Regions from separate parts of the Homo sapiens genome. Here region 2 is linked to region 1. Evidence: fine-mapped expression QTL. Tissue or cell type: whole blood. Region 1 holds a variant in brackets; the other region holds the start of a gene. All regions are shown on one strand. Distances are from middle to middle. Region 1 overlaps GTF2E2 (general transcription factor IIE subunit 2). Region 2 holds the start of GTF2E2 (general transcription factor IIE subunit 2).

Region 1 (12,538 bases):
CTCCCTGGGCACAGGCGATCCTCCTATCTCAGCCTCCCCAGTAGCTAGGACTACAGGTGTGTGTCACCATGCCTGGCTAATGTTTGTATTTTTTTGTAGAGATGGGATTTTGCAGTGTTGCCCAGTCTGGTCTTGAACCCCTAGGCTCAAGTGATCTGCCTACCTCAGCTTCCCAGAGTGCTAGGATTACAGATGTGAGCCACCACACCCAGCCTGAAATTAAATACCTTTAAGTAACCTATGGTTCAAGGAGGAAATCACAGGGAGGTAAAAACATTGTTGCATTAAATGAAAGTGAAAGCACAGTGTATCAAAATTCATGGGATGCAGCTATAGCAGTGCTTATAGGGAAATAAAGAGCATTAAGTGCTTATAGTAAAAAAAAAAATTCTATTGTATGGCCATACACTTTTCATGTATCAGTTGATGGATATTTGGGTTTTTCCACTTTTTGGCTGTTGTGAATAATACTGCTATTAACATACCTATACAAGTTTTTGTGTGGACATGTGTTTTCATTTCTCTTAGGTATATACCTAGGAGTAGAATTGCTACATCATATGGTAGTTCTGTGGTTAACTTTTTGAGGAATTGTCATACTATTTTGCAAAGCAGCTACATTAATTTACATTCTCACCAGCAACTTAGGAAGGTTCTGCTTTCCCCACACCCTTGCCAACACTGATTTTAGCCATTCTGGTGGATGTGAAGTGTTACTGTGATTTTGATTTGCATTTCCCTAATGACTAATGATGTTGAACATCTTTTTATGTGCTGATTGGCCATTTTATATTTTATTTTATTTTTATTTTATTTTTTTACTGTAGAAACAGGGTCTCACTCTGTTTCCTGGGCTTGAGTGCAGTGATGCTATCATAACTCATTGCAGCCTCAAGCTCTTAGGGTCATGCAATCCTCCCTTCTCAGCCTCCTGAGTAGCTAGGGCAACAGGTGTGCCACGGTACCTGGGTAATATTTTAATTTTTTATAGAGGCAGGGTCTTACTCTGTTGCCCAGGCTGACCTTGAACTCCTGGCCTCAAGTAATCCTCCTGCCGTGGCCTTTCAAAGTGCTGGAATTATAGGTGTGAACCACCACATCCGGTCCATCTGTATATTTCATTTGGCAAAATGTGTATTGAAATCCTTTGTCCATTTAAAAAATTGTTTTGTGCTTTTATTACAGAGCTGTAAGAATTCTTTATTCTGGATACAAGGCCATTGTGAGATACATGCTTTACAGATATTTTTTTCCATTCTGTGGGTTGTCTTTTCACTTTCTTGATGGTGTCTTATGAGGTATAAAAGTTTTTAATTTTGGGCCAGGCGCAGTGGCTCACACCTGTAATCCCAGCACTTTGAGAGGCCGAGGCAGGTGGATCATCCGAGGTTAGGAGTTCGAGACCAGCTTGGCCAACATGGCAAAACCCTGTCTCTACTAAAAATACAAAAATCAGCTGGGCATGGTGGTCCCCATCTGTAATCCCAGCTACTCGGGAGGCTGAGGCAGGAGGATCACTTGAACCTGGGAGGGTGAGGTTGTAGTGAGCTGAGATTGCGCCACTGCACTCCAGCCTGGGTGACAGAGTGCAACTCTGTCTCAAAAAAAAAAAAAAGTTTTTGATTTCAATCAAGTCCTTTATCTTTATTTCTTTTGCTGCTTGTGCTTTTGGTGTCATGTCTAAACCATTGCCTAATCCAAGGTCATGAAGATTTACCTCTGTTTTTTCCTCTAGGAGTTAGGGGTTTTTCCTCTAGGAGTTAGAGTTTTTGTTTATGGTGTGAGACGTGGGTCCAGTGTCCTTTAGAAAGCTAAATAGTAGGTATAGATCTCTACATTGTAATATATACTACTGTATAACCCAGCCATCCCACTCTTGGGTGTTAACCCAAATTCACATTAAATTAATGGGTATTTATACTGGCTTTCTTCATAACCACCAACAATTGGAAACAACTCACATCCTTTAACTGTCCCTTAACTTCCCCTTAACTGTGGCACATACTTAGAGTGGAATACAACTCAGCAATGAAAAGGAACAAAGGACTGACATTCCAACAACATGGATGAATCTCAGAGGCATCGTGCCTCATGAGGGAAGCCAGATTCGAAAGGGACATGCTGTGTGATTTTATTTATATGTTTATGATATTCCTGGGAAACAGAACCATAGAAACAGATCAGGGGCTGCCCGTGGAGAGAGTGACTGCAGAGGAGCATAGGGTGATTTGCGGTTGTGGAACTGTCTATATCATTATCATGGTGGTGTTAGCATGACCATATGCTTGTCAAAACTTCAGGAATTGTACAGTAAAATGTGCAGGATTTTAATTTTCATAAATTATACCTTAGTAAAATAAAAGGACAATTTAAAGTAGTTGTTCAAAAGAATATGGTGTTTCTCCCATTGTAAAGCAGTTTTCAAGGTAAAGAGTTACCCCACGGCTTCTCCCCTTCTTGTTTTGGTGTCTGGTGTTTATCCCGAGTAAAAAGTGCAATTGCTCAGTGTAGATTTCAGCAGGATCACCAAGAACAGCAAGTGCTGCCAAGTTCTTCTCATTCTGTCCAGCCTCTGCTGCACAGATTTGGGCAGACGATGCCTGTTCTTTACAGATGTCCAGATAGCAGGTCATACTGTGGTAGTGACAGAATTCTCAAGAAATACTTGTTGAAATGTTGAGGATGAAGTGGCACTTGTCTTTATAATCCTGCCTGCTTAAGTTATACTTAAAATTTATTTTTTATTTTTAAGACAGCGTCTTGCTCTGTTGCTCAGGCTGGAATGTAATGGCACAGTCATAGGTCACTGCAGCCTTGAACTCCCCTGGACTCAAGCCATCCTCCCACCTCAGTCTCTTAGCTGGGACTACAGGCATATGCCTCCATGTCTGGCCAATTTATTATTTTAAAAATTTTGGTAGAGATGGAGGTCTCGCTTTTGCCCAGACTGGTCTTGAACTTCTGGCTTCAAGTGATCCTCCCACCTTGGCCTCCCAAAGTACTGGGATTACAGGTGTGAGTCATTGCACCATGCCAATACTTTTTTCTTTTTTTTGAGGTGGAGTCTCGCTTTGTCAGCAGGCTTGAGTGCAGTAGTGCGATCTTGGTTACTGCAACCTCTGCTTCCTGGATTCAAGTGATTCTCCTGCCTCAGCCTCCTGAGTAGCTGTGATTACAGGCGTGTGCCACCACGCCCGGATAATTTTTTTTTTGCATTTTTAGTAGAGATGGGGTTTCACCATGTTGGTCAGGCTGGTCTCAAACTCCTGACCTCGTGATCCGCCTCCCTCAGCCTCCAAAAGTGCTGGGATTACAGGCGTGAGCCACTGTGCCCGGCCAGGCCAGTACTTTTTTAAAAAGAAAATTTTCAAGCAGTGTGTATTAGTTTCCTGTTGCTGCTGTAAGATGTTACTACAAACTTCATGGCTTAAAACAACACAAACGTATTATCTTACTGTTCTGGAGGTCAGAAGTCTTAAATGGGTAAAAAGGGCTGCACTTCTGGATACTCATGGGAAGAATTCGTTTTCTTGCCTTTTCAGCTTCCAGAGGCTACCCGAATTTCTTGGCTTGTGTCCCAGCATCACTCTGACCTCTGCTTCCACCTTGACTCAGGCTCTCTTGCCTGCCTCTTTCCTTTATAAGGACCCTTGTGATTACATTAGGTCTGCTCAAATAATCCAGGATAACCTGCCTTTCAAGATTCCTTTTTCTTTGGACCAACACCTCCTCATTCCCCTTCTCCTAGCCTCTAGTAGCCATCATTCTACTCTCTGCTTCTGTTGAGTTCTGATTGTTTTAGATTCCACGTAGAGGTGAAAACATGCGGTTTTTGTCATTCGGTGCCTGGCTTATTTCATTTAACAATGTCCTCCAGGTTTATTCATGTTGCAAATGACAGAATTCCTTTCTTTTTTAAGGCTAATAGAATTCCATTGTGTGTATATATATTATATTTTTGTTATCCGTTCATCTGTTGATAGACACTTAGACTGAGTCTTTATCTCGACTGTTGTAAGTAATGCTGCAGTGAACATGGGAGTGCAAGCATCTCCTCAACATACTAAGTTCAAGTCCTTAGAATAAATATCCAGAAGTGGGATTGCTGGATCAAATGATAATCTAGTTATTAGTTTTCTGGGGGGACTCCATACAGTTTTCCATAATGGCTACACCAATTTACATTTCCACCAACAGTGTACAGGTGTTCCCTCTGCTACATCCTCATCAGTGCATGTTATCTTTCCTCTTTTTGAGGATAACCATTCTCACAGGTGTGAAGTGATGGCTCATTGTACTTCTCTTTCTCCTTTTTCCTTTAAGTCTCTGCCCCAGTTGGAAATCATTGTGGTTTTGATTTGTATTTCCCTAATGATTAGCAATGATGAGCAATATATCTGTTGGTCATTTGTGTGGTTTTTTTTTTTTTTTTTTTTTTAAGACGGAGTCTTGCTCTGTTGCCCAGGCTGGAGTGCAGTGGTGCGGTCTTGGCTCATTGCAACCTCCGTATCTTGGGTTCAAGCAATTCTCCTGCCTCAGCCTCCCAAGTAGCTGGAATTACAGGTGCCCGCCACCATGCCCAGCTGAGTTTGTATTTTTAGTAGAGATGGGGTTTTGCCATGGTGGCCAGGCTGGTCTCGAACTCCTGACCTTAGGTGATCCACATGCCTTGGCCTCCCAAAGTGCTGGGATTATAGGCATGAGCCACTGTGCCTGGCCTCATTTGTATATCTTCTTTTGAGAAATGTCTGAATATTTCTGACATTTCAGGATTTCTGAATTTTCAGACAATATTCAGATCTTTTGCCAATTTTTAAATCAGGTTATTTTTTTTTTTTTGCTATTATTTTGAGTTCCATATATATGGAAAATATATATAATTTTTTTTTCTTTTTTAGAGGCAGCGTCTCATTTTGTTGCCCAGATTGTAATGCAGCGGCATGATCTCAGCTAACTGCAGCCTCCACCTCCCAGGCTGAAGTGATCCTGTCATCTTAGCCTCCTAAGTAGCTGGGACTGCAGATATGTACTGCCAAACTTGGCTAATCTTAAAACATTTTTTGTAGAGACGAGGTCTCACTATATTGCCCAGGCTGGTCTCAAACTCCTAGGCTCAAGCAATCTTCCTGCCTCGCCCTCCCAAAGTGCTGGGATTATAGGCATGAGTTGTGGCACCTGCCCTATATTTTGTATATTAAACCCATATTAGATGTATTGCTTGCAAATATATTCTCCCAGTTTGTAGGTTGTCTCTTCAGTCTGTTTACTTTGCCATGCTGCAGCTTTTTGGTTTGTTGTAATCCCAGTTGTCTATGTTTGCTTTTGTTGCCTGAACTTTTGGGGTCAAATCCAAAAAATGATTGCCCTGACCAGTGTTGTGTTGTTTTCCCTGTGTTTTCTTGTAGTATTTTCACAGGTTCAGGTCTTATGTTTAAGTCTTCAATCCATTTTGAGTTGATTTTTCTATATGGTGTGAGACAGTGGCCTCATTTCATTCTCCTGCATGTGGATATTCAGTTTTCCCGACACCCTTTATTGAAGAGACTGTCCTTTTCCCATTGTGTGTTCTTGGCACCTTTGTCAAAGATCAG[C/T]GGATTGTAAATGCATGGGTTCATTACTGGGCTTTTGTTTATGCCAGTCCCATGCTGTTTTGATTACCGTAGCATTGTAATATAGTTTGAAGTAGTGTGGTACCTCTAGTTTTGTTTGTTTCGCTCAAGATTGCCTTGGCTATTCAGTTTTTTTGTGTGTTTCCATTAGACTTTTAGAATTATTTTTTCTATTTATGTGAAAAATGACATTGGAATTTTTATAGGGATTGCATTGAATCTGTGGATCACTTTGGATAGTATGGACATTTTAACAGTATTAATTCTTCCAATTCAGAATCCAAATCTTGAGATCTCCTCATCTCAAGATTCTTAGTCACCAAAGTCTCTTTTATGGTAACGTATTCACAGGTTCTGGGGATTACGTTGTGGACATCTTGGGTGGGGGTGCATTTTTCTGTGTAGCACACAAGAAATTATTTTGATAGGTCTCAAATGTAAGATCACTAGAAGATGAGGTAAATTGAGAAATGTCCTATTTTCTGGAACTGCAAAGTGGATATAATGACACTTTTGAGGATAAAAAGTCACGTTAATAACACGTGTTGTTAAAGGAAAAGGGAGGAAGGCATGGCGTGTTGCTCGTTGAGATTCTGCATTTGGTTTTGTTGTTGTTGTTGTTTTAGAGACAGGGTCTCTCTTTGTCTCCCAGGCTGGAGTGCAGTGGCACAATTGTAGCTCACAACGTCAAACTGGGTTCAAGCTCTCTTCCCACCTCAGTCTCCTGAGTAGCTGGGACTACAAGTGAACACCACCATGCCCGGCTTGTTTTTTAAATTTTTGAGATGGTGTCTCTATATATTGCCCAGGCTGGCCTTGAGCTCCTGGGTTCAAGCAGTCCTCCCACCTCCATCTCCCTAAGCTCTGGAATTACAGGCATGAGCCACTGGGCCTGGCCTTTTTTTTTTTTTTTTTTTTTTTTTTTTTTAAAGGGCAAAGATGTACCTTAATGCTAACACTAGAACACCATAGCCTAATGTGGGGCTGAGAAAAAGTGGCAAGTGCGTGAATTATTAGTAAGTATGATCCTCCTTATTTTTAGGTTATTTCTTTAAAATTTTACACTAGCAATACACAAATATTTCTGCATATTATTAATAAAACCTTTGTCAAGTCTGCAGAACAAAAAAATGAAAATTCTCTAAGCAAACTGTATTCTTTTCTCTGGGGATACCTATTGGTGTGTATTTTCCACATCTTTACGATGTATTTAATATGTATGTGTTTTTGCTTTTTAAGAAATTTTTAGAAGTTTTGTTTCTTCTGCTTTACATAAATGAGATCACTTTGTGTCTAGTAGCTGATCCTCTTCTTAAATGTTTTATATTGCCTTTATTAAAGACACCAGCACACAGAAAATTATGATGGGTGTTAGATGGTGATGATAACAGTAATAGGTGTAGATAATGCTGTTTCATTTGCAGGCATTATTTTCGGTGCTTTATTAACTCCTCTAATCCTCACTATTCTATGAGGCAGGTATTATTATTACTATTATCGTTATTATTATTATTGAGACGGAGTTTCGCTCTTGTTGCCCAGGCTGGAGTGCAATGGCGTGATCTCGGCTCACCGCAACCTCTGCCTTCCGGACTCAAGCGATTCTCCTTCCTCAGCCTCCCAAGTAGCTGGGACTACAGGCATGTGCCACCACGCCTGGCTAATTTTGTATTTTTAATAGAGATGGGGTTTCTCCATGTTGGTCAGGCTGGTCTCGAACTCCCGACCTCAGGTGATCCGCCTGCCTTGGCCTCCTAAAGTGCTTGGATTACAGAGCCACCACGCTCGGCGAGGCAGGTATTATTATTATCCTCACTTTACAGATGAAGAAATGGAGGCAGAAAAATTAAGATGTTTGCACCACTTTGTGCAGGAAATGTGGTAACTGAGGTCACAGCCAGGCCATCTGGCTCTGAGGCCTGCACCACACTGTTGTGCTACTTTTGCATTTACGGGAAAGGGCTAAGCACAGACAAAATGTGAGTGCGTTATTTGGGAATTTTAAGCAAAGCCTCATTGGTAAGTTGGCTCATTTTCTTCCCTTCTATGGCAGTTACACAGTTTTTTATTCTTAACTCATGTGGGACAAGGAAGGGTCTTTTGAAATGAAAGGATCAAATCTGAGCTTTTAAATTCTAGTCTGTTTTCTCCTCTTTTCTGCTAAGAGAGTAGATTTCTAAATCAGTTCTGATTTTATTTACCCTTACGGTTTAGAGTGTGCCTGACTTTCATGATACTTGGCTGTCTTCTGCCATAATAAAGTGTCTGCCTTTAAATTTGATGTCCCTTGATCATTTTGTTTTCAAAAAAGAGATTGCTATTTTTAAAAACCCAAAATATGTAGATCTTGGTTTTTAAATACCATTCTATAATAAAACAAGTCAGGAATCCTTGAAGAAATCATTGATTCCAAATGAGGGGAAATACAAGATGAGCCTGGAACATCTTTTAGTACCGCCAGAAAGTGAGAGAAAGAAGAAAAACTGGAGGAAAAAAAAAAAAAGGGAAGCAAGTCAGGGACATAGGAACCAACATGAAGGAAATCTTAGTGATTAGAGCTGGGATGTTTGAACCACAAAATAAATACTGATCGTCGGCTGGGCACGGTGGCTCACGCCTGTAATCCCAGCACTTTGGGAGGCTGAGGCGGGCAGATCACAAGATCAGGAGATCGAGACCATCCTGGATAACACGGTGAAACCCTGTCTCTACTAAAAAATACAAAAAGTTAACTGGGCGTGGTGGCTGGCGCCTGTAGTCCCAGCTACTCGGGAGGCTGAGACAGGAGAATGGCGTGAACCCGGGAGGTGGAGCTTGCAGTGAGCCGAGATCGCACCACTGCACTCCAGCCTGGGTGACAGTGCGAGACTCCATCTCAAAATAAATAAAATAAATAAATAAAATAAATAAATAAATAAATACTGATCGTCATGGATTATCTGTGTAATAAATATGTAGATATAAATCTGTACAGTAATATCCATGAGTCTGCTAAATTAAATAATTGAAAAACAAGTTGGAGGTTGGGCACAGTGGCTCAGGCTGGTAATCCCAGTACTTTGGGAGGCCAAGGCAGGTGGATCGCTTGAGTCTAGACGTTCGAGACCAGCCTTGGCAACATGATGAAACCCTGTCTCTACTAAAAATACAAAAGTTAGCCTGGTGTGGTGGTATGTGCCTGTAGTCCCAGCCACTTGGGAGGCTGAGGGAGGAAGATTGATTGAGCCCAGGAAGTTGAGGCTTCAGTGAGCCAAGATTGTGCCACTGCACTCCAGCCTAGGTGACAAAGTGAGACCCTGTCTCAACAAACAAACAGTGAACTGAAGGAAGAGCAGCTCTTTGTGTTTTTTGTTATGTTTTGTTTTTTGAGATGGAGTCTCGCTGTGTTACCCAGGCTGGAGTACAGTGGCACAGTCTCAGCTCACTGCACCCTCCGCCTCCCAGGTTCAAGTGATTTTCCTGCCTCAGCCTTCTGAGTAGCTGGGATTACAGGTACCCACTGCCATGCCCAGCTAATTTTTGTATTTTTAGTAGAGACACAGTTTCACCATGTTGGCCAGGCTGGTCTTGAACTCCTGACCTTGAATGATCCACCCTCCTCGGCCTCCCAAAGTGCTGGGATTACAGGCATGAGCCACCGTGCCCAGCCTATTATAGTAGAATTCTAATTAGTACATATGGAAGGAATGATGGAAATAATTTGTCAGTAGTTACTTACAAGTAGTCATTTTTGTAGGTAAGCACTACCAATGGATGCTATTATAAAATTAGTGATAATATGAGAAACGGTATTTATATAGTCTGAAAATATCTCTCCATTAATTATTAACTACAAAGGAAAAACTGATAGCTTCATGACAGAGAAACCTGAGAGATAACACCTTGCCTGATGGTCAGCGTTTACCGGGTCCATGTTGACACTATGTAGCTTGCTACTGTGCCCCAAGAAGGGCACAAGCTCGTTACTGTGTTGTTCTTGCCAGAATTGCATAACCTCAATCTAGTAATGAGGAAATACTAGACAAACCCAAATGGAAGTTTCTGTAAAACAACTGACCAGTGGGGAAACAAAGACTGGCCACACTTAGAGAATGGAGGAGACCAAAGAGATGTGACAGGCAGGATCCTGGGCCAAGAAAAGAGCATCGGTGAAGTTGAAGTTTCACTTCAAACTTGTGAAGTTTCAGTAAGGCCTGTTGATGAATTAATAGTAATATGTCCATGTTAGTTTCAATAATTATACAGTTATGTAAGGTGTTAACATTAGGGGAAGCTGGATAAAGGGCATATAGGAACTCTGTGTACTCATTTTGTAACCCTTTTGTTAGTGTAAAATTATTTTTTAAAAGTCTAAAAAATGTAAAAAGAAAAATATAGGCCAGACATGGTGGCTCGACACCTGTAATCCCAGCACTTCGGGAGGCCAAGGCAGATGGATTGCCTGAGCTCAGGAGTTTGAGCCCAGCCTAGGCAACATGGTAAAACCTCATCTCTACACAACCCCCCACCCCCCCAGAAACAACTTAGCTGGGCATGGTGGTGTGTACCTTGGTCCCAGCTCCTCAGGAGGCTGAGGTGGGAGGATTGCTTAAGCCCAGGAGGTGGAGGTTACAGTGAGCTGAGATTGCGCCACTGCTTTCCAGTTTGGGCAACAGAACTAGACCCTGTCTCAAAAATAAATAAATTTTAAAAAAAGAAAACAGTCTGTCTTGTCTAGGGTGTAGTAGACAATGATGGTATTTCATACATTCGGTAGTCAAATCGTTGAAGTCTTGTCTAGGCTGTAGTAGACAGTGATGGTGTTTCATACATTCAGTAGTCAAATCACTGAGGACCTGTCATGTGCTAGGTACAGTGCCGACTGTCATGGAAACGAGATGGAAATACGCCGACTATCATGGAAACAAGATGGAAATAGAGCTCCCTGCTCTCAAGGAGCTTAGAGAGGCCGAGACAATCATGCACACAGTTGTTATCAGTTAGGTCATGTCCATAATGTGTGCAGATGAACGTTCAGTGGGTGTGTAGTAGAAAGAACCCCTAATGTATCTATGGAAATTAAAAAATCTTATTTAGAGACATTTTGGATTTAAATAACTTTATGCTCAGGTTGAATTCTTTGTAGTAGATTTTGCCACTTTTGCCATTGGTCACCTGCAATGAAAAGCTTCAGGGTAGGTGGCAGTAAACCGATTTCCATGGTATCACCAGAGTCCTGCCTATGTGGGCATCATTTGCTTTATGCAGCGTGTACTGAAATGAGAGAGAAAGGGGGAAGGAAGGAAAAGGGGAAAAGGAAAGAAATCTGGCCTAGCACAGTATCAGATGCCTACTTCATTTATCATTTGTAAACGGACCGTGGGAAGTTCTTGGCTCTGGAAGAAAAGGAGGGCGGCGCTGGGTGAGGGTCTGGGGTGGGAAGAAAGGAAGGGAAGGTGCATCCCCTCAGTGCGTGGGGCAGTTGTGAGTGTGAGGCTCTGTGAAGCCTCGGGGCTCAGAGAGCTTTTCCTTTTTTCGTTCCTGAGCGTGTAAGTCTTAGGATTTTGTGTCTGAAAGTAGCTTCTGATAATTAAGTGAAACCAGTGATCAGAACCTGTCTTCAGGAGCAGAATGTAAGATGTAAATAATGTTCATTTGGAATGCTTCCCAATTGTGGTCTCTCTTGGTTGCAAAAATAGTGATGTGGCAGAGGGACTACAGGTTTCTGAAGACAAGCTGCAGGCAGGACTGTCGCCTTTCTCCTTGTATTACAGAGAGGAGGTGAGACAGTGTTTCTATTTCAGCCATCCCCCCTTTCCCTTTCATGCCTCCTTAGTCACCAGTTACCAGGTTATTTGATTTCAAAAGTCTTTTTTGCAGATAAATTGTTGAATAACCTCATTTCCATGTGAAACTTCGGTTCCCGTCTCCCTACACGTTTCTTATTTTCTATTATCAATGAGAGAGGAATGAGTATATCATGCTTAGGGGAGCTGAGCAGGAAATAAGCTGTTAGCCCTAAATAGAGGAATTAAAGGAGGGTGTTGACGGCCCAGGAAAGCAGGGCGGCTTCATTGTGGCAGCCCTCATTTGCTGGCCTCAAGAAACAGCCCCACTGTCGGGGCTGTGTGGGTGCAGTTCTGTCTCCAGGCCTTTCCCTGCACCGTGTCCCACATGTGGATGTTCTGCCCTGACTTGTTTCATGATGACATATCAGATGTGCTCATTTGGATCCAGAGGAGATAACACTGAAACCTGGATTTTGATCAAGATGCTATAGTTTGTAAAAATGGATTGTAAAATAACTAGTGTCTGTTTGATACAGAATTTCAGAAACTGTGGAGGAGTGTCACTGTAGATTCCATGGACGAGGAGAAAATTGAAGAATATCTGAAGCGACAGGGTATTTCTTCCATGCAGGAATCTGGACCAAAGAAAGTGGTGCGTAATCTCTAGCAAAGCAGCTTAATCCCCTGCCCTGGGAACTGTTAGCCTGCTCCGCTTTCTGCCCTCTGAAGAGCTGGGAGTTGTTCCCCCGCCATTGTTTCTCAGTGTCCGCAGCCCAGGTCACATCTGAGGTATTGCAGGCCTGCAGACCCGCCCTCGGTGCTGCTCCAGGCCTGTGAGTGCCTTTCTACACCCAGCTCCTCCCAAGCAGTCCTGCTCTTGAGGTATAGCCATATGGAACCTTCCAGGGCCTGTGTGTTCCCCACTCTCCCACTCTAAGCTGCTACAAGCCCTTCTCCCTATTCTTAAAGGGATGCTGTGCCTTGATCTGCACAACCTTTCAGACTTGAACGGGGCCCTCCCCTGCTCCGTGAGCCTCGCCGTCCTGGTGCCTGGTTCTGCCATAGTAACTTTCAGGTCCTCTAGGAACCAGATATTTTTGTCCGTATAGTCTCTAAATCCTGCTCACAGGGGATGTTAGTAATTAAATGATGACTTTTACA
Region 2 (12,538 bases), 71 kb before region 1:
GTGTCCACATGGACATGGAGTGTGTAGAGTGTGAAAGAACAGGCATTGAAACTTGAATGGGTGGGAGGGTGGGAGGGCAATGAGGGATGAGAGATTGCCTAATAGGTGCAATGTACACTGTTTGGGTGATGCTTACCCAAAAGCCCAGACTTCCCCGCTATGCAAAATATCCATGTGACAAAACTGTATTTGTACCCCTTACTTTTTTTTTTTGAGACGGAGTCTTGCTCTGTCGCCCAGGATGGAGTGCAGTGGCGCGATCTCGGCTCACTGCAAGCTCCGCCTCCGGGGTTCACGCCATTCTCCTGCCTTAGCCTCCTGAGTAGCTGGGACTACAGGTGCCCGCCACCACACCTGGCTAATTTCTTGTATTTTTAGTAGAGACGGGGTTTCACCGTGTTAGCCAGGATGGTCTCGATCTCCTGACCTTGTCATCCGCCCACCTCAGCCTCCCCAAAGTGCTGGGACTACAGGCATGAGCCACCGCGCCCGGCCGTACCCCTCAAATTTATACAAGTAAAAAAAAGTTATGGCATATCAAAGAGAAAACATGACGCAAGGACTTTACCTTCTCTTCTGGGAAAGGGGTTAGTGTGTTTTTGTTTGTATGCAGGATAGTGGTATCATGGTAGGTGGAATTATGACCGTGTTATTGTCTTTATTTGGTTATTAAGTATGGTTTAAGGAGATGTGTCTGGGTGCCAAGTTGCCATGGTTAAGTTTACTTGTCAACTTGACTGAGCCACAGGGTTCCCAGACAGTTGGTCAAGCAGTATTCTTGGTGTGTCTGTGCGGGTGTTTCTGGATGAAATGAACATTTATTTATTTAATTTATTTTTTGAGACTCAGTTTCACTCTGTCACCCAGGCTGGAGTGCAGTGGTGCAATCTCGGCTCACTGCAACCTCTGCCTCCTGGGTTCAAGTGATTCTCCTGCCTCAGCCACCCGAGCAGCTGGGAGTATAGGTACCCGCCACCACAGCCAGCTAATTTTTGCATTATTAGTAGAGATGGGGTTTCACCATGTTGACCAGGCTGATCTCAAACTCCTGACCTCAGGTGATCCACCCGCCTCAGCCTCCCAAAGTGCTGAGATTACAGGTGTGAGCTACTGCAACTGGCCAAAATGAACATTTAAACTGGCAGATGTATCAAGCAGATTCCCCTCCCTAATGTGGCAAGGCCCCATCCAATCAGTTGAATGCCTGAATGGGACAGAAAAGCCGACCCTCCCGTGAATAAGAGGAATGCTCCTCCTGCATGACTGTCTAGAGCTAGGATAGCAGTTTATTTTCTGCCTTTGAACTAGAACTGAAACAGTGGCTCTTCCTGTTTTGAGCCTGCATGGCTTTGAACTGGAAGGACATCTTCAGTCATCTGTGCCTCCAAGTTGGCTGCACATCTTGGGACTTGTCAGCCTCCATAATGACATGAGAAATCCCTCTCTGGCTGGGCGCAGTGGCTCACGCCTGTAATTGCAGCACTTTGGGAGGCCAAGGCAGGCAGATCACTTGAGGTCAGGAGTTCAAGACCAGCCTGGCCAACATGGTGAAACCCCGTCTCTACTAAAAATACAAAAATTAGCCAGGTGTGGTAGTGCGCACCTGTAATTCCAGCTACTCAGGAGGCTGAGACAGGAGAATTGCTTGAACCTGTGAGGTGGAGGTTGCAGAGAGCTGAGAACGTGCTATTGCACTCCAGTCTGGGTGACAGAGTGAGACTGTGTCTTAAATGATAAATAAATACATCCCTCTCTAACTCTGTCTCTATTTCTTTTTTTTCCTCTCTCGGTCTCTCTCTCCTTCTGTCTACACACACGCACACACACATATCCTATTTGCTATTTCTCTGGAAAACTCTAATACACTGATGTAGCAAAAATCATGAAATACATAAATGTTATGAGAAATTATTTTCTTTATTATGATAATTATTATGGAAGTTGATCATAAACACCTAGTATTGCATGCTAAGATATGACGGTTATCAAAGAGAAAACTTGAAAGAAAGTTTGAATTATGGAACGACTTCTTATTTGTTTCTGCAAGGTAAGAAGCTAGTTTGGTCCCAACTTTTTAAAGATGTGAGTTCACTCTTTGCTCACTCATGTGTTCGAGGTAGGCTACTCCCTCCCCATCTCCAGAAAGGTGAATCAAAATTTGTTTCAGGTTGTCACGGTAGTTTCTTTCCCTTTCATGGGGATTGATTGGTTTAGATGAGGTATGTGACTCCATCCTGGCCAATAACTACCTGGGGAAAGTCTACATATGTGTGTGTGTGTGTGTGTGTGTGTGTGAGAGAGAGAGAGAGAGTGTGTGTGTGTGTGTGCAGTGATGGGGTTTGGCTCTCTGTTAGAGGTTTTTTGCTTTCTTTTTTGAGATGGAGTCTTGCTCTGTCACCCAGGCTGGAGTGTAGGGGCACGATCTCGGCTCACTGCAACCTCTGACTCCCCGGTTCAAGTGATTCTCCTGCCTCACCCTCCTGAGTAGCTGGGATTACAGGTGCCCGCCACCACACACTAATTTTTGTATTTTTTAGTAGAGACGGAGTTTCACCATGTTGGCCAGCCTGGTCTTGAACTCCTGACCTCAAGTGATCCGCCTGCCTCGGCCTCCCAAAGTGCTGGGATTACAGGCATGAGCCACCACGGCCGGCCAGAGGTACTTTCAATTTTTCATCTGCCAGGCAGAAAAATGGGGGTGAGGGGTTGCAAAGGGAGCAGCCTCTGGTCCTTTTGTTACTTGGGTGTGGAAAATTAGGGTTTTCCTTTTGATTTAGCTCTTTCTAGGGAGTCAGCGTGAATTGGCCTTAGGTTCTCTGCTTCCAGACCCTATTCTCCTGCCTCAGAATGAATGAAGCCATTGCTTTCAGTGTTAAGACCTAGACACATGCAACAGGCAGTATAAGCAGGAGTTTGTAATGTAATAAGGTTTCCTGGGGTTTGTATGAGAGGGTTTCAATGATATTAATAACAAGAGCTAACTTCTGGGTAAAGGGGACACAATTGAGATTTGAGAGTCTGGATTATAGATAGTACATTCTGATATTATTAGTAGCTTAGCTGTTTCAACTGGCTGAAATGAGTCAAGATATTGACATGAAATTACTCACTGTAAGCGTTTATTGAGCACCTTCTTTGTGAAAGATTTAATTCTGTAAAGATTCTCTAATTGTTAGATTTCTAAGTCTCAAGGGAAGAGATAGTGAATATGTGTCAAAGTTTTATTTAACGCAAGAAATGTAGACCTGCCAAGTGAGAACAGAGACTATTCAGAGCTTGCTATAGCAATAGGGGCAGCGACCACACTTGAGTTTGGCAGAGACTCAAAAGCAATCGGGAAGAGGGGAGACTTTACAGTGGAGGAAAAAAGGGATGCTTCTGATGTGTTCTGATTTAGGGATGTTGGCAGGGGAAGCTGGAAGTTGTCTAACTTGAAGCAGGAAACTTAACAGGATTGGTTTGGGAAGAATATTTGGCTTTCTCTGGCTGATACTGGTGTCTGAGGACAGAGAGGTTAAAATAGAAAAGTTGGCAGCCTTCTTGAGAAAATTCTGACCATTTTGAGCTGATTGCTGTAGAGGTTATGGTTTGGCTTATGTGAGTTAGAGTGTTATTATCATATGCGGTTTAGCCATTGTCCATATGTATAAGTCTCTCACTCATTAATAAGGGAGCCAGCAGAATCATAAAACGGATTTCTACCAGTTCTGAAAAATGATATTTATATAATCGTTGGGGAAAGGAATGCTGAAATAAAACTGCTCAGTTGATACAAAACCGGTTAATTTTTCTCAGAAAAATGCAACCTTAACCTTTGGAATTTTATCTATCTATCTATCTATCTATCTATCTATCTATCTATCTATCTATCTATATACACACTGAATTCCCTGCCCCTTTTTCCCCTAACACCTCATCAGTTTCCTACCAATTGATGTTTGATTTCATCCTTTTGTAAATCTTCTGGGCCCTAATCAATTGTTATTCAAACAAAGTTACATTTCCTGTGGGTGTCAGATGATCAAGTAGGCTTATTACAAAATTCTCTAGAATGAAACTAATAAAAGTCACAAAATATTATCTTTTGACTTTTTTCCAAGTTTTGAATAAAATTTTAGGTATTTTCTCACTTAATTTTCACCACAGTCCAATGCAAGTAACTCATTGTAGTAGTACAATGATTATCCCCATTTCCCCGATGAGAAAACTGAGCCACAGTTTCAGTAACTTGAAGAGTAACCAGTAATTCAACGACAGCCACAGAATGGCTGAGCACTGGCTGTACTGCCGCTTTAGGTTATAAGAGTGAGGGAAGGCCTGCCACGCTGCAGGTTTCGGGCAATGAAATTATTTTTTCCACTGCTTTATTTCCACCCATTTATCTGGCTTCTAAATCCAAAATCCTTTTCTAAGACAGTTCACAGGGGTGGAGGGAAGAGGCTGGGCTGTGCTCCACATCAGGCTGCCTTTGCTAGCTGTGTTGTCTTGAGCAAGTCATTTATTAATTAGCTTCCTGGCCCTCTGTTCTTCGCTTGTAAAAGAGCTGGAACCGCGTTCTCGGTGTGCAGGTGCTGGTGTGTGGCGCTGGGGTAAACTCACAAAATAACCGTTGAGGCCGGGCGCGGTGGCTCACGCCTGTAATCCCAGCACTTTGGGAAGACGAGGCGGGCAAATCGCTTGAATTCAGGAGTTCGAGACCAGCCTGGGCAACATTGTGAGACCCTATTAATACAAACAACAACAACAATAATAACCAAAAATAGTCCGTCGTGGTGGCACTCGCCTGTGATCCCAGCTACTCCGGAGGCTGAGGTGGGAGAATGGCTTGAGCCCAGGAGCGGAGGTTGCAGTGAGCCGAGATCGCGCCACTGCCCTCCAGCCTGGGTGACCGAGTGAGATCACGTCTCTAATAAGAAAAAGACAAAAAACACAAAGTAACCATTGAAAGATAGCGTCGTCGGCTGGGTTCACCACATCCCAGCGCACGCCGGAGCAGGCTGTAGCAGTTTTAATAAAGTGTCTATAAAGAAAGCTGCCTTCCATCTTCAGTGGCGCCGCCTCCCACTTCAGTCCCCTTCTCGGCCCCACCCCAGCCCTTCCCTCGTTGTCATGGAGGCCCCAGGACGCCAGAGCGGGATAGTTCCGCTCCCGCGGCACCAGAGGCGGGGCACGCAATGACGCATGCGCTCGCTTGGCTGCCCTGGCGCCGCGGTGGCTGCCGGGACTGAGCTCCTAGCACCCGATCGGGAAGTGGCGGGCGGAGTCCCGGGTCCAGTCGCCGCCTCAGCTACCGCCGCTGCCGCCGCCGCCGCCGCCACCGCCAGTGGTGAGACCCCGACCTGGCGGGTCAGCGCTGGGCGTGCGTGCGGGCAGGCGGGGGCGCTGACGAGAAGCAGGAAGAGGGTGCAGTGCCGGCGTGGGCGGCCGGCCGAGGCGGAGGCGCAGGAAGGGGGCGGCGAGTCGTGCGAGGCTGCCCTTCTCACTCAGGTAGGGGCTGCGGCCGCCGGGTGTGGGGCGCAGAGCCCCGGCTTGCTGTTCCCTGGGACGCAGGCGCGCCGCCGCCTCCCGGGAGGCTGAGCGTGACCTCCACCTCACGGGAAGCTGGGACCGCCGTTCTCGAAGCGAAACACCCAGCACGCGAACCGTTCCCCGGAGCATTGTCTTTAGGCCAGAGGTTCATTGAGCAAACTTTTGGGTTGGAAAGAGGGAAAATTCGCGGTCTGCCGCCTGACTGTGCCTCTTCCAAGCCTCCAAGTTCACGGGCGCGGTAGCCAAGCGAACCGTGTGTGGAGTTTGAGCAGCCGCGGGGTCCAGCCAGCTCAAGACTGTGATTTAAAATGATGCTCATACGCGGACTGCTTTCTAGGCTACCTTTTGGAGATTTGGTTTGTGATGATCCCTAAACTTTAACGATAGTAGTTGATTTCTGCAGTCTAAACAACGCTGCGGCCCCCTTTTCGCCCACCTCCCCACTTCCGTCATTTAAGGGCGAAGCAGCCTGCTTTTCATAGCCGGGTCCTGAGGTGCCAGGGACACTAACGAGGCTGGGTAAAAGTGAAAGAGAGGGGAAGTAGTAAGGTTGAAAGAGGTCGAATGGTGGCAAGAATCGTGGGCTTGGAGGCAGATTTCAGTTTAATTTTTGGGTTTTCCGTGTCTGCCCACGGAGGAACCAGCCAACTCCTTGAGTTGTGGTTTTGTTTAATTGTAAAATGGACATGGTGATGTAGCCTGTTTACTCCATAGGGGGGTCCAGAGATCTAAAACTTAGTACACATATTGGGTAGTCTTTGAAAAAGGAGGAAAAGTTAGGCGGAGCACGTGATGGTGAAAGACAGACATTGCGAAGCTTTCTGCTCTAGATGCCTTTGAACGTTCCCGAACCTCACAGGTGGCCTTTGTTTTAAAGGCCTTTACCAGCGTTCCAGGTCTGGTGTAAGGAGCACTTGAGTTAGGAGTCAGGAGGTTTGGTTCCTGGCCCTGGCTCTTCCATCTGTGCGACCTTAACCAGACAGCTTCACTTCAGATTTCACGTATTAAAATAGGAATAACACTAATACCTGTTTGCTCCTAGAGTTGCGAGGGTCAAATACTGTAAGCATTTAGTTTGTTGTAAACTGTACGGCTTTATTTACTTTTTTTTTTTTTTTTTTCTGAGACGGAGTCTCGCACTGTCGCCCGGGCTGGAGTGCAGTGGCGCGATCTTGGCTTACTGCAAGCTCCACGTCCCTGGTTCAAGCGATTCTCCTGCCTCAGCCTCCCAAGTAGTTGGGATTACAGGCACCCGCAACGACACCCTGCACATTTTTTAAATTTTTAATGGAGACGGAGTTTCACCATGTTGGCCAGACTCGTCTAGAACTCCTGACCTCGTGATCCGCCCTCCTCGGCCTCCCAAAGTGCTGGGATTACAGGCGTGAGCCGCTGCGCCCGGCCTATTTAAATCTTTTAGAGTAATTTTTTTAAAGTCCAGATTGAGGTCCTGCCTTTGCAACGTGAAATAAGACACAAATGTTTCCTGTTCTAGAAATTTACTTTTTGCTCCCACCTTCTCACTTGACAATTCTCCTTTCTTCTTCTTGGCCCCACGCTTTCCCTCCTCCCAAGGCTGTCTCCTACTTTCCTCAGCCCGGTAAATCATTCCCTTCTTTCAGATCCAACTCAAAATAGTAATACTGAAATAACACGTTTTTATGACTTTACTGTTTAAAAAATAACATACACATTTTCTCATTCTTACAATTGGGCTGGATGTGGACAGCTTTCATAGCGTCCTCATTTCACTTATGAAATTGAATGTAGAGGCCTTGTGGGTTGCCTAGCCAGGTGGCTTTAGGAATTGAAACTGAGGCCGGGTGCGGTGACTCACGCCTGTAATCTAAGCACTTTGGGAGGCTGAGGTGGGCGGATCACTTGAGGTCAGGAGTTCAAGATCAGCTTGGCCAACATGGTGAATGAACCCCGTCTCTACTAAAAATACAGACATTGGCGGGGCGTGGTGCTGCGCGCCTGTAGTCCCAGCTACTCGGGAGGCTGAGCCAGGAGAATCGCTTGAGCCCAGGAGGCGGAGGTTGCATTGAGCCGAGATTGCACCACTGCACTCTGCCAGCCTGGGCGGCAGAGCGAGACTCTGTCTCAAAAAAAAAGAAAAAAAAATTGAAACTGAGAGAAGGCAGGTTTTTGATTCACCGTCCAGTGATTGTTCACGCCTTAATTGAAATTCAGTCTGATTATTTCTTATCAATGCTTATATTTAAAATTTTTAGCTCAATGCTTCCATTTTCTCAAATCTAAGCAGCATGTAGACAAGGATTTATCTTCCGTAACCTTTCAAAGCTTAGAGCACAGTGCCTCACAAACAAGATATTTAATAAAGGCTTGTGAAACCAGTAATAATGGGACCAGAGCAATTTAAAGATGATGTTCCATGTGTTGTTCATTTAACAAATATTTATTGAGCTATCTGTGCTTAAAAGCTTTCAAAGTATGAGTCTTTTTCCTCCCAGCTGACACTAGTCTTAACAGTGTCAAATTCATTTATATAGTCAGCTTGAGGTCTTCATAGACCCTCTGTAGGGTTCTAGCAGAGTTCAGAAGAGAGGTGTGTTTAGAATTCTTGTTGGTTGACCTGTAGCTTCCCTGGTTGTAGTGAAATTGCTTTGAGTTGTAATTTTAGAACTAGACAAACAACAACCACAACATAGAAGTTGCCTCAAACCACCTCCCTCCAAATTGGAAATTTTCTGTAGACTTTTTTTTTTTTTTTGAGACAGAGTTTTGCTGTATCCCCCAGGCTGGAGGGCAGTGGCGGGATCTCAGCTTACTGCAACCTCTGCTGGACTCAAACAGTTCTCGTGTCTCAGCGTTCTGAGTAGCCCGGACTACACGTATGTGTCACTATGACTGGCTAATTTCGTAGAGATAGGGTTTCACTATGTTGCCCAGGCTGGTCTCTCAGCCTCCCAAAGTGCTGGGATTACAGACATGAGCCACTGTGCCCGGCTCTCTGTAGACATTTCTAACAAATAGTATAATAATTCAGCCTCTTCATCACTTAATAATTGAGAGTTCACCAGTTGTAAAAATATGCCATTTTATGTATAAGCAGTTCTGATGGTTCTCTTTTTTTGCAGTGAGCCTAAATCCACCTTCTTCTAATTTCTGCCCTGTAGTCCTCATGTTTCTACAGCAGTGTTGTCCAATAGAAATATAATGGGAGTGGGAAGTGTGAGCCACACGTGTAATTAAAAATATTCTAGGCTGGGTGCAGTGGCTCATGTTTGTAATCCTAGTGCTTTGGGAGACTGAGGTAGGAGGATTGCTTGAGGCCAGGAGTTCAAGACCAGCCTGGGCAACATAGCAAGACCTTGTCTCTAAAAAGTTTTTAAAAAAATTAACTGTGTGTGGTGGCGTGTACCTGTAGTACTAGCTAGTCAGGAGGCTGAGGTGGGAGGATTGCTTGAGCCCAGGAGTTCAAGGCTACATTGAGCTATGATCACACCACTGTACTCCAGCCTGGGCAACACAGTGAGACACTGTCTCTTAATTTTTTTTTAATAGCCATATTTTAAAAGAAAAATTGGTGAAATTAATTTTAACATTTTATTTAACCCAGTATATTCAAAATAGTATCACTTCAACATGTAATTAATGTAAAATATCTCGTTAGTAATTAAATAGTTTTTTTCTTTATACTAAATCTTTGAAATCTTGTGGGTTTTTACACTTGAAAGTCCATCTCAATTTTAACTAGCCACATTTCACATGTTTAATAGGCACATGTGGCTAGTGGCTAATATATTGGACAGCACAGTTCTGGAACTTTAGGGAATAATTCTGTTTCTTTTCTTTCTTTCTTTTTTTTTTTTTTTTTTGAACAAGGGTCTTGGTCTGTCACCCAGGCTAGAGTGCAGTGGCATTATCACAGCTCACTGCAGCCTTGACCTTCCAGGCTGAAGTGATCCTCCCACTTCCGCCTCCCGAGTAGCTGGGACTGTAAGCACACATCACCATGCCTGCCTGATTTTTTGTATTTTTGTAGACAGGAGGTATTACCATGTTGTCCAGGCTGGTCTCCAACTCCTGGGCTCAGGCAGTCTGCCCACCTCGGCTTCCCAAAGTGCTTCAGCCACTATGCCTGGCCTCTTTTTTTCCTATAATGGCTAGTACAGTGCTTGGCGTGTAATAAGCGCTAATGAAATATTTCTTGAGTACTTGAATAAGTGAATAAATGCAAGTGCTAGAGAACTAATAATAAAAGGTAATTTTGTTTGGGAAGTAACTTGTTGAGATCTGTGGATTTGGAGTGCAGGTTTGAGTGACTTGAATTTGTATTAAAGACACTTATTTTTTCTTTGTAGCATTATGGATCCAAGCCTGTTGAGAGAAAGGGAGCTGTTCAAAAAACGAGCTCTTTCTACTCCTGTAGTAGAAAAACGTTCAGCATCTTCTGAGTCATCATCATCATCGTCAAAGAAGAAGAAAACAAAGGTAGAACATGGAGGATCGTCAGGCTCTAAACAAAATTCTGGTTAGTAAAATTGTTTAGGACTGTTTGGTTTTTATTCAGATTATTCAGGAGGAAACCGTTTAGTTATGGCTAGTTCATTTTTCAGTTCAGCACTCATGTTGATAGGCACTTTGTTGAATATAAAGGATGGGACAAGAGAATTTAAGCTCTTAGGATGTTAATAGTCTTGTGCTGTAGTTAAAATTTAGGTTATTACCTCTTTAAAAAAACTTTATTTAGGTTTAATTTACATACCATACAGTTCATTCATTTTAAGTTTACAGTTCAAAGATGTTTGGTAAATTTACAGAATTTTGCAGCTGTTATTACAGTCCAATTTTAGAACATTTCCATCACCCCCAGCAGATCTGATGTGCCCATTTGCAGTGACTTTTCCCATCCCTGCCCCGGAAAACCAATAATCTGCTTTCTGGCTCTGTATATTTGCCTTTTCTGGATATTTCCTATAAATGAAATTGTACAGTAAGTGGTCTTTTGTGTGTTGTTTTTTTCACTTGGCATATTTTTGAGTTCCATCCATGTAGTATGCATCAGTACTTCATTCCATTTTTATTGGTAAAGCGTATTCCATAGTATGGATATATGTACCACAGTTTGTTTATCCATTCACCAATAAACGGTTATTTGGATTATTTTCACTTTTTGGCTGTTTTGAATAGTGTTGGTATGAATATTCATGTACAAGTCTTTGTGTAGACATATCTTTTTATCTCTTTTGGATAGAGACCTAGAAGTAGATTTCTGGGTCATATGTCAAATTTATATTTAACTTGTTAAGAAACTGCTAAAATAGCTGTACCATTTTATATTTCCTCCAGCAATGTATCAGGGTTCTAGTTTTTTCTCATCCTTGCTAACGCTTGAAATTCTGTTTTTTTTTTTTTAATCATAGCTATTTCTATAGTTGTGAAGTTCTATCATTGTGGCTTTAATACGCATTTCCTTAATGAGTAATGATGTTGAACATTGTTTCATGTGCTTATTGACCATGTGTATTCCTTGGTGAAATGTCTATTCAATTTTTTTTTGCCCATAAAAAAAACTGAGGTATATTTCCTCTCTCTATTGATTTAATAATTCTTCATATATTCTGGCTACCATTCTTTGATCTGGTATACATTTGCAAATATTTTCTCCAAGCAAGTGCTTGTCATTTTATCTTCTTAATAGTGTCTTTGTATGTACAAAAGTTTTTAATTTTGATGAAGTCCACCTTACCAGTTTTTTTCTTTTATCATTTGTATTCTTGGTGTCATATCTAAGAAATCTTTGCCTGACACAGGTCATGAAAATTTTTTTCTGTGTTTTCCTCTAAGAGTTTTGTAGTTTTAGCTCCTGCATTTAGGTTTGTAGTATATTTGAGTTGATTTTTGTGTATGGATTAGCATAAGAGTCAAAATTTATCTTTTTGCGTGTTCTTATGAAGTTGTCCCAGCATCATTTTTTGAAATGATGATCTTTCCCCTGTTGAATTATATTGCGCCCTTGTTGAATATTAGTAGACCATAAATCAAAGAGTTTATTTCTGGAGTCTTAGTTTGGTTCCATTGACTTCTGTGTTTATCTTTATGCCAGTATCATTTCTCTTGAGTGCTGTAGCATTGTAATTAAGGTTTGAGACTGAGAAATGTAAGTCCATCAACTTAGTTCTTTTTTATTTCAAGAATTGTTTTAGTTTTTCTGCATAAATTTTAGGGTCAATCTATCAACATTTGCAAAAAAGCCTGCTGGGATTTCCATAGGGATTGAATTGAATCTATAAATCAATTTGGGGAAGAACTGCCATCTTAACAATATTAGATCTTCCAGTCAATGAATAGATGGCTTTTTACAAATTTTTTGTAGAGACAGGATCTTGCTCTGTTGCCCAGGCTGGTCTCAAACTCCTGGCCTCAAGCAATCTTCCTACCTCAGCCTCCCAGAGTGTTGGGATTATAGGTGTGAGTCATTACACCCAGCGGTTATTTTATTCTGATTCAATCTCACTTATGAATGAAATTGTTTTCTTTGATTTTTTTTTTTAAATTGTTCATTGCTAGTATATAGAAACAAGAGTTTTTTTTAATACATTGATCTTGTATTCTGTAACCTGACTGAACTTGTTTTTTATTTCTCGTAGTTTTTTGTGTGGTTTCCCTAGGATTTTCTATGTCAAGATTATGTCATCTGTGAATAAGAACAGTTTTCTTTCTTTCTTTCCGGTGTGAACTTTTTAATTTTTATTTATCTTGCCTGTCTGGACTGGCTGTACATTGAATAGTAAAAGTAGCTACCTTTGCCTTGTTCCTGATCTTAGGGGCAAAGCATTCGGTTTTTCACTCTTACGCATGATATTACTGCAGGTTTTTGTACATGCCCTTTCCAGTTGAAGAAGTTCCTTTCTATTTCTAGTTTGTTGAGAGGTGGTTTTTTTTTTTTTGAGACGGAGTCTTGCTCTGTTGCCCAGGCTGGAGTGCAGTGGCGCAATCTCAGCTCAGTGCAAGCTCCACTTCCCGGGTTCATGCTGTTCTC

What was found.
Region 2: GTF2E2 starts here. The variant in region 1 is fine-mapped to the expression of GTF2E2 in whole blood (INTERVAL, PIP above 0.99).

What each region holds. Positions count from the first base shown.
Region 1 is chr8:30,579,772-30,592,309 of GRCh38, reverse strand. GTF2E2 (general transcription factor IIE subunit 2) reads left to right here. Exons shown (of 8, transcript NM_002095.6): 7 at 11,914-12,029. Among named protein-coding and RNA genes, the nearest start is that of SMIM18, 53 kb to the left of the region's middle. The variant C/T (reference allele first, on the strand shown) is at 5,592.
Region 2 is chr8:30,650,922-30,663,459 of GRCh38, reverse strand. GTF2E2 (general transcription factor IIE subunit 2) reads left to right here and starts at 5,224. Exons shown (of 8, transcript NM_002095.6): 1 at 5,224-5,487; 2 at 9,858-10,027. The coding sequence starts at 9,862. RefSeq lists enhancers at 4,681-5,352, 6,024-6,695 and silencers at 5,130-5,539, 5,550-5,639.